Homo sapiens: one gene and its partner. The protein of the gene in region 1 interacts with the protein of each later gene in a pairwise test. Each region holds a gene or a part of one and is shown on either strand. Other genes may lie near its edges.

Region 1 (3,649 bases):
GGGTGTAGAGGGGCGACTGTCGGGGACCATAGGGTGGGAGGAGGACACTGTGGCCTCCCGAGAGCCTGAGATCCCTCCCCTATATTCTCATCCTGTTTCCAGTCACAGTAGGCCCACACCAGGCTGGGGATGTTTGTGAACTGACAGCCTGAACCTGCTATGCCATTCATTCAGTCAGTCATTCAAGAACTACGCATTGAGCACCTGCTATGTGCCAGGCCCTATGCAAAGAGCTGGGATACAGTGGAAGTTACATTCTACGGGGGGACACACACACAGATAATAAATAATTGCAAACATTAGTTACAGCTGGGGGCCAGGGCTATAAGGGGCTGCCGCAGGGGTACTTGATCTAATCTGAGGGACAGAGGGGGACAGGCTGTGAAACTGGGACCCTGAAGGTCAGCTGGGAATTAGATGATGGGAAGGAGGGGAAGGGAGAGAGTGAGAGTGTTTCTGGCAGAGGGAAAGCAAGTGCAAAGGCCCTGAGGTCAGATAGAGCTTAGCACATTCAGGACCTGAGAGACGTTCCTTGGCAGCGGGGAGCACGGGGCGGGAGGGTAGCAGAGAGAGAGAGAAGACACCAGCAATTGTCAGGGCCTTGCAGTGTATATGAAGGTGTGACGTTGTCTAGTCACCTGGCCTGTGATTTTATTTATTTTTTCTTTATTTATGTGTTTATTTTTTAGATAGAGTCTTGCCCTGTCACCCAGGCTGGAGTGCAGTGGTGTGATCTCAGCTCACTGCAACCTCTGCCTCCCGGGTTCAAGTGATTCTTCTGCTTCAGCCTCCCAAGGCTGGGACTACAGGCAGGCGCCACCACACCCAGCTAATTTTTGTATTTTTAGTAGAGATGGGGTTTCACCATGTTGGTTAGGCTAGTCTCGAACTCCTGACCTCAGGTGATCCGCCTGCCTCGGCCTCCCAAAGTGCTGGGATTCCAGGCGTGAGCCACCGCACCCGGCCTGGTCTGTGATTTTAAAAGGTCACACTCGCCGTGTTTGTGGGATAGGCCGGGCTGGATCCGCATCGACTCAGGAGGCACAGGAAGGGATGATCGCAGATGTCCAAGTGAGACATGGTAGTGTCTGGTACCAGCAAAGTGATGGTGAGGATGCAGGGAGGTGGCCAGGCCTGAGAAAGGCTGAATCTCCAGGGCCTGGCAGCCAGGGGCGGGGACAGGGAAGAGGGAAGGAAAGAGTTGAAGCGGCCCCTGTTCCTGTCTTGGGTGGCTGAGGCCATGGTGAGGCCACGCACTGAGTTTTGCAGACTCAGTCAGGGGCGCTTTGGGCATTCAGAGAGGTGTCCGGCAGAGCTCAGAAAAGCAGGGGTCCTCAGCACCTGATGGAGGCATCCAGACAGAGCCCAGATGTACAGCTATGAGCATGCCACACAGGGCCTCAGCCTCGCTCCAAGCAGCACCAGAGGCCAGGCCAGCGATGGTGGTAATGCCCACCAGGCCAAGGGCCTGGGCTGCCACCCCTGGAAAGCCTTCCTTCAGTCTAGCAGCCTAAAGCCGCATCCTAGGAAGGATCTCTGTGTGGGGTGCAGTGGGCAGGCGTGTCTCCCTTCACACAAATGATGGAGGGTCCAGGTCTGGCTCTAACCCTTCTCTAAGTTTATCTCCCTGGCCCCACTCCCACCTAACTACACCCGAGGCCTCCATGTGCCAAAGGCTCTTGCTCATAGCGTTAACAACTGCTTTTTCTCACCCTAACCCTGTATATCATTGGAGAATTGCACATAGCTGCTACCAACAGAGATGAAATAACCATAGCTTAAAGACAAGAGGTTATTTTTCTTTCAAGTTAAAGAAGTACCAGAAGCAGGCCAGGCACAGTGGCTCACGCCTATAATCCCAGCACTTTGGGAGGCCAAGGCAGGCGGATCACCTGAGGTCAGGAGTTCGAGACTAGCCTGACCAACATGGTGAAACTCTGTGTCTACAAAAAATACAAAAATTAGCCAGGCATGGTAGCAGGCGCCTGTAGTCTCAACTACTTTGGAAGCTGAGGCAGGAGAATTGCTTGAATCTGGGAGCGGAAGTTGCAGTGAGCCGAGATCATGCCATTGTAATCCAGCCTGGGCAACAAGAGCGAAACTCCATCTCAGAAAAAAAAAAAAAAAAAAAAGTACCAGAGGCAGATGATGCAAGGCTGGTGTGATGATGATTCAGTGGTCATGAGATATCCGGATTCCTTTTGTCTTTCTGCTCCTCCATCTTTTATATATGGCTGCTGCCACAAGTTTGTCTCATGGTGCAAAATGGCTGCCACAGCTCCAGCCATCACTTCCATGTTCTAGAGAAGAAGCAGGAGGTTGGTGAATGGGAAAAAGACACAGGCTGGCTGTCTGATCTTTTCTGCAGAGTTCTGCCAGCAGTCACACCCAACTTCTGTTTATAGTTCATTGGCTACCTCCTGGCCTGGCTTATAGGAGCCTGGGAAAGGTGGTCTTTTAGCCGACTACCCTGTATCTCAAAAGAAAATGAAGGCTCTGTAATAAGGATGCATGGGAGGACTGTGGGCTGCCCGCAGCCTCTGCCACCCCCTTCCATTTGCTGGTTTGCTGCAGTTCCAGTTTGCCCTGCTTCAGGCCCAGCACTCAAGCCATCATGGTGGCCACCGTGGCCATCTGTCCACTGCCTGTCCTCTGTGCCCCTGCACCCTGCACCGCACCTGGCAGAGGAGATGTGAGAGTAGGAGAGGGGGAGGCCCAGCCTAGGGCCCTGTGCACCATGGGAGCTCACTCAGGGAGGGCTCCTCCCCAGGCAGAGCCCAGGACACGACCTTCCCCTCTCTAGCACTTTCTAAGCCCTGAAGCTCAGCTCTCATTTAGTGAGAATCGATTTGGGGGTGGGAGGCCAAGAGGCCCTGCCACTGGATCAATGGGCAGGCGGGCATCTGGCAGGCAGCCCTGGCCTGTGAGGACGGGAGGCACAGCCCCCAAGAGGGCACAGGGATCCCAGCCCCATGGGAGGAGAGGAGTGGGTGACGGCGCTCTTGGGGAGCCCGGACCTTGGACTGACTCAGGAGGATGCTCTCAGGGGCCAGCTCCCAGGCACGGGGCTCTAACCCTACCTGTCCCAGGCAGGACGGCTACAGCTCCCTCCTGGAGCCCGGGACAGAAGCCCCCATCAAGGAAGCTCACAGACAGGACCTTCGAAGCCACATGCCAAGCCCCAGCCAAGGTCGGAACCCCAAGGGCAAAGCATCTTGCCACCGCTGGGCAGCTCGGTCCAGCCAGGAGATGGCCCGGGTGTCGCCAGCCCAGCCTTCCTCCCCAGAGTCCCTGAACACAGGCAGCCGGGCTGTCACTGGCTCCCTCGCACGCCTGGGCCGCTGGCGGGAGGCCAGACTGCCCTTCTCCAGGTTCCTGGATGAGGTCACTGTGCGGGTTCTGGACCCTGGGACCCTGGAGGCCTTCAGGGTGCCCAGAGGCCGCAGCCCAGAGCCCTCTGCAGTGGATCGAGGCCAAGGTCTAGCCCAGGAGGCCCTTACAAGAGCTGCAGCCCCAGGGGAGAAGGACCCAGCCCTGAGCTCCCAGCTTTCTTCGGAGGCGGCCACTGAGGCTGCAAGCAGAGTGGGGCCAGGCCAGGCCGTGGGAACTAGTGGGCCTTGCTTGGGCAGTGGCAAGCGTGGAGGCCGGA
Region 2 (3,749 bases), on another chromosome or scaffold:
ATTATAGGCATGAGCCACGGCGCCCGGCCAATTTTATTTTATATTTATCTTATTTTATTTTATTTTAGAGTCGAAGTCTCGCTCTTGTTACCCAGGCTGGAGTGCGGTGGTGCTATCTTGGCTCACTGCAACCTCTGCCTCCCGGGTTCAAGCGATTCTCCTGCCTCAGCCTCCTCAGTAGCCGGGATTACAGGTGCATGTCACCACACCCGATTAATTTTTGTATTTTTAGTAGAGACAGGGCTTCACCATGTTGGTCAGGCTGGTCTCGAACTCCTGATCTCATGATCCACCCGCCTCGGCCTCCTAAAGTGCTGGAATTACAGGTGTGAGCCACCGCGCCCAGCCTTTTTTTTTTTTTTTTTTTTTTTTTTGAGACGAGAGTCGCACTGTGTTGCCAGGCTGGAGTGCAATGGCGTGTCCTTGGCTCACTGCAACTTCCACCTCCCAGGTTCAAGCGATTCTCCCGCCTCAGCCTCCAGAGTAGTTGGGATTACAGGCGTGTGCCACCACACCCAGCTAATTTTGGTATTATTAGTAGAGACCTCCGCAGGTCCTCTGGCCTCTCCAGACCTCAGTTTCCCCAACTATAAAATGGGGAGAGCAGCCATGCGCCATGGCTAACCAAAGACGGTGTCGCCAGGAACTTAGGAAAAGCTCAGTAAACTGGGTCATCATCACTACATTCCTGGGTCAAAGCTCCCTTGGATCCAAATGGTGGTTCTGGCTGCTTGGAACCCATTACCTCCTCGACAGCTCCCTCTCACTTCAACTTCGGATGAGAAGGGAAAAGGGACGCGAGTGACCAGGGCCAAGGGCAAGAGCAGTCCCCGAAGCAGGAGTGAGGGCAGAGAACAGGGCCCAGGGCGGGACCGGGGCGGAGAGGAAGCGTCAGGACCCCCAGGGTGGGGGGCGAGGGTTGGGAGCCCCTGAGATGAAGGGCGAGGGCCGGAGCTGAGGTGGGGTGGGGTCCCTCAGGGTGTCGGAGGAGGGTCGGGAGCCAGGAGGTGGAGGGCGAGAGCGGGGCCCGAGGCGGGGCCGAGTGGAAGGGTCAGGACCTCCGAGGTGGGGCGGAGGGACAAGGGTCGGGACCCCTGAGGTGGACGGCGAGGACCGGGGCTGAGGTGGGGTGATGGGCAGGGGCTGGGCCAGGGCCAGGCCGGGATCCGGTCGCGGTCAGGCTCCGGGACTGGAAGGGGAAGGCCGGCCAGGCGCCCGCGGCAGACGCCCACACCCCACAGGCCACGTGTGGCCTGGACGCCTGGGACGGCGGAGGCGCTCCGGTGGCGCCCTGAGCTGCTCAGTTACCAGAGCCGTTGGGGCCGATGATGCAGGTGAACCTCCGGAAGGGGCCAATGACCTGGCGGCCCCGCCACGACTTGAAATTTTCCACAAGCAGCAGCTCCAGGTGGGCCATGGCGCCGCCCTCCACGCCTCACCCGCGTTATCAAGCGCCCGCGGAAAAAGCGCGGGAAGGGATTCGCCAAGTGTCGCGAGAAGAGAGCGAGACGCGGCAAGCGCGGAGCCGTTCCTTAGCAACGAGTTGTTGACATTTCCGAGAGAGCGGGAGCGTCTGTACCTCTGCGGCGTCACTGGGAGCCCGACGGAAAACTGCGCTAAAGGCTTGTCTTTCCCCTGCCCGACCGAAGGAGCCGACCTTGCCTGCGCTACAGCTTCCTTATTTTCGTCGCCTGTTCTCCTGATCCTGCGTGTTCTAAAAACCCCTTAGGCTTTCCATGGGTTCCCAGACCATGGCGGTGGCGCTGCCCAGGGACTTGCGGCAGGACGCCAACCTGGCAAAGAGGAGGCACGCGGAGCTGTGCAGGCAGAAGCGGGTCTTCAACGCCAGAAACAGGATAATTGGGGTGAAAGGGCAGGGGCCGGGACGGGGTTAGAGCGGCAGATGCGGGCGAGGGGCTGCGTGGAGGGGGAAAGGAGATGAGTTCTAGGATGAAACATCTGAGCCAGGAGGCAGCAAACGGCCTCCTGCAGGGCCAATAATGCTCCCTCTCGAGCTCGCCTGGAGTCACCAACGGTTCTCCTCCCCTGAGCCAGATTTTCTACAACTCGTTTACAGTGGGGCAGAGATTAAAAATAATAATAAGTAGGATTGTTATTACTGAATAAAATGATCTGGCTCTAACCCTTCTCCTCTGTTTTTCCATTTATAGGGAGACACTGAAGCCTGGGATGTTCAAGTTCATGACCAGAAGATAAAAGAAGCTACTGAAAAAGCTAGACATGAAACCTTTGGTGAGCATTTCCTGAATGCTTATCTATTGGTTTAGGATTGTGTGGCTTTAGACTCCAGTCTTCCCCACCGTCCCCCTGCCCCGCCTTTTTTTTTTTATTTTTTATTTTTTTTATTTAATAGAGATAGGGTCTCACTATGTTGCCCAGGCTGGTCTGGAACTCCTGCGTGCAAGTGATCCTCCCACGTCAGTCTCCCAAAGTGCTGGAACTACAGGCATGAGCCACGGTACCCAGCCCTCCTTTCTTCACATATATAAAAAGTTGTCATTTTCACACTCTTCTTCCTTTTAAATTTCACAATTTCTTGTGCCCAGTTAACTTAATGCACTGATTCTTCTCTTAAAAACAGCTATTGAATTCGAATGTGGATTATAAGAAATAGATTTTAAGGGTATATGTATGTTTTCCTTCATTTTCTTAAAAAACTGGATAGGAAAAGCCTTAAACACAGAAAGACACACACACACACTCACTTGCTCTGCTCAAAAGTTTAAGACCGTCTATGAAGGACAGCTGTTTATACCAGACAACACATATGTCCGGGCTCACACCCTCAAGCTGACTCAGAGACAGACATGATTCAAATCATAGTATTCAAGTACCTTGAATACTGTTATTCAAGGTATTATTATTCCACTTCAAATACAACTTATTTTCCCCTATCGTGTCCAACAATTTCAACAATTGTTGAAATTTCACACTTTGAGAGGCTAAAACTAGAGGATCACTTGAGACCAGGAGCTCCAGACTTGCCTGGGCAACAAAGCGAGACCCCATCTCTACAAAAAATAAATTGAAAAAAAAAAAAAAAAGAAATTTCAGTGTTTTTAAACACCATAAAGATTTTTATAATAGAAAAAAAAGCAGGATACAAAATTGTACATACAATGGGCTGTTATGTTTTTAAAATATTTTAAAATATGCTCAGAAGAAGAAGAGAGGAAATATGCCAAAATGTTAGCAGGGTAATGTTGGAGGGATAGAATTATGAGTAAACTTTATTTTCTCCTTTATACTGTTCTGTATGTTCTAAACATTTTATCTTTTTTATTAATATTTTTAGTTATGAGGTAATTCAATCTTACAAAAACAATGTGACAGGTACATATGTACCCACCATCAGACTAGATGTTAACATTTTGCCAGATTGGCTTCAGATATCTTCAGTGTTTTTTGAGAATTGTGTTTTTTATATATGTGTATATATATATATATATATATAACAACACTGCCCTGCCCCCTACCTCTTAATTTTCCCCTCCTTTCTCCTCAGAAGTGTTTATCATTCCCATGCTTTTTTTTCTATTTTCTTTTGAGATGGAGTCTTGCTCTGTCTTCCAGGCTGGAGAGCTGTGGCGCGATCTCAGCTCACCGCAACCTCCGCCTCCTGGGTTCAAGCAATTCTCCTGTCTCAGCTTCCCGAGTAGCTGGGATTACAGGTGCACACCACCATGCTGGGCTGATTTTTGTATTTTTAGTAGAGACGAGGTTTCACC

Evidence for each region. The genes of interacting proteins can lie anywhere in the genome.
Region 2: the proteins of BEGAIN (region 1) and RIBC2 interact in a two-hybrid assay, tested with the Homo sapiens proteins (one large-scale study listed by BioGRID and IntAct).

Annotation. Positions count from the first base shown.
Region 1 is NC_000014.9:100,577,340-100,580,988, reverse strand, and holds part of BEGAIN (brain-enriched guanylate kinase-associated protein), read left to right. Parts: intron 1-3,649. UniProt on the Homo sapiens protein: May sustain the structure of the postsynaptic density (PSD).
Region 2 is NC_000022.11:45,412,151-45,415,899, forward strand, and holds the start of RIBC2 (RIB43A-like with coiled-coils protein 2), read left to right. Parts: upstream 1-1,542; 5' UTR 1,543-1,736; coding exon 1,737-1,865; intron 1,866-1,927; exon of another isoform or gene 1,928-2,076; intron 2,077-2,171; coding exon 2,172-2,253; intron 2,254-3,749. Other genes in the region: SMC1B (structural maintenance of chromosomes protein 1B), read right to left, coding at 1,309-1,417. UniProt on the Homo sapiens protein: Microtubule inner protein (MIP) part of the dynein-decorated doublet microtubules (DMTs) in cilia axoneme, which is required for motile cilia beating.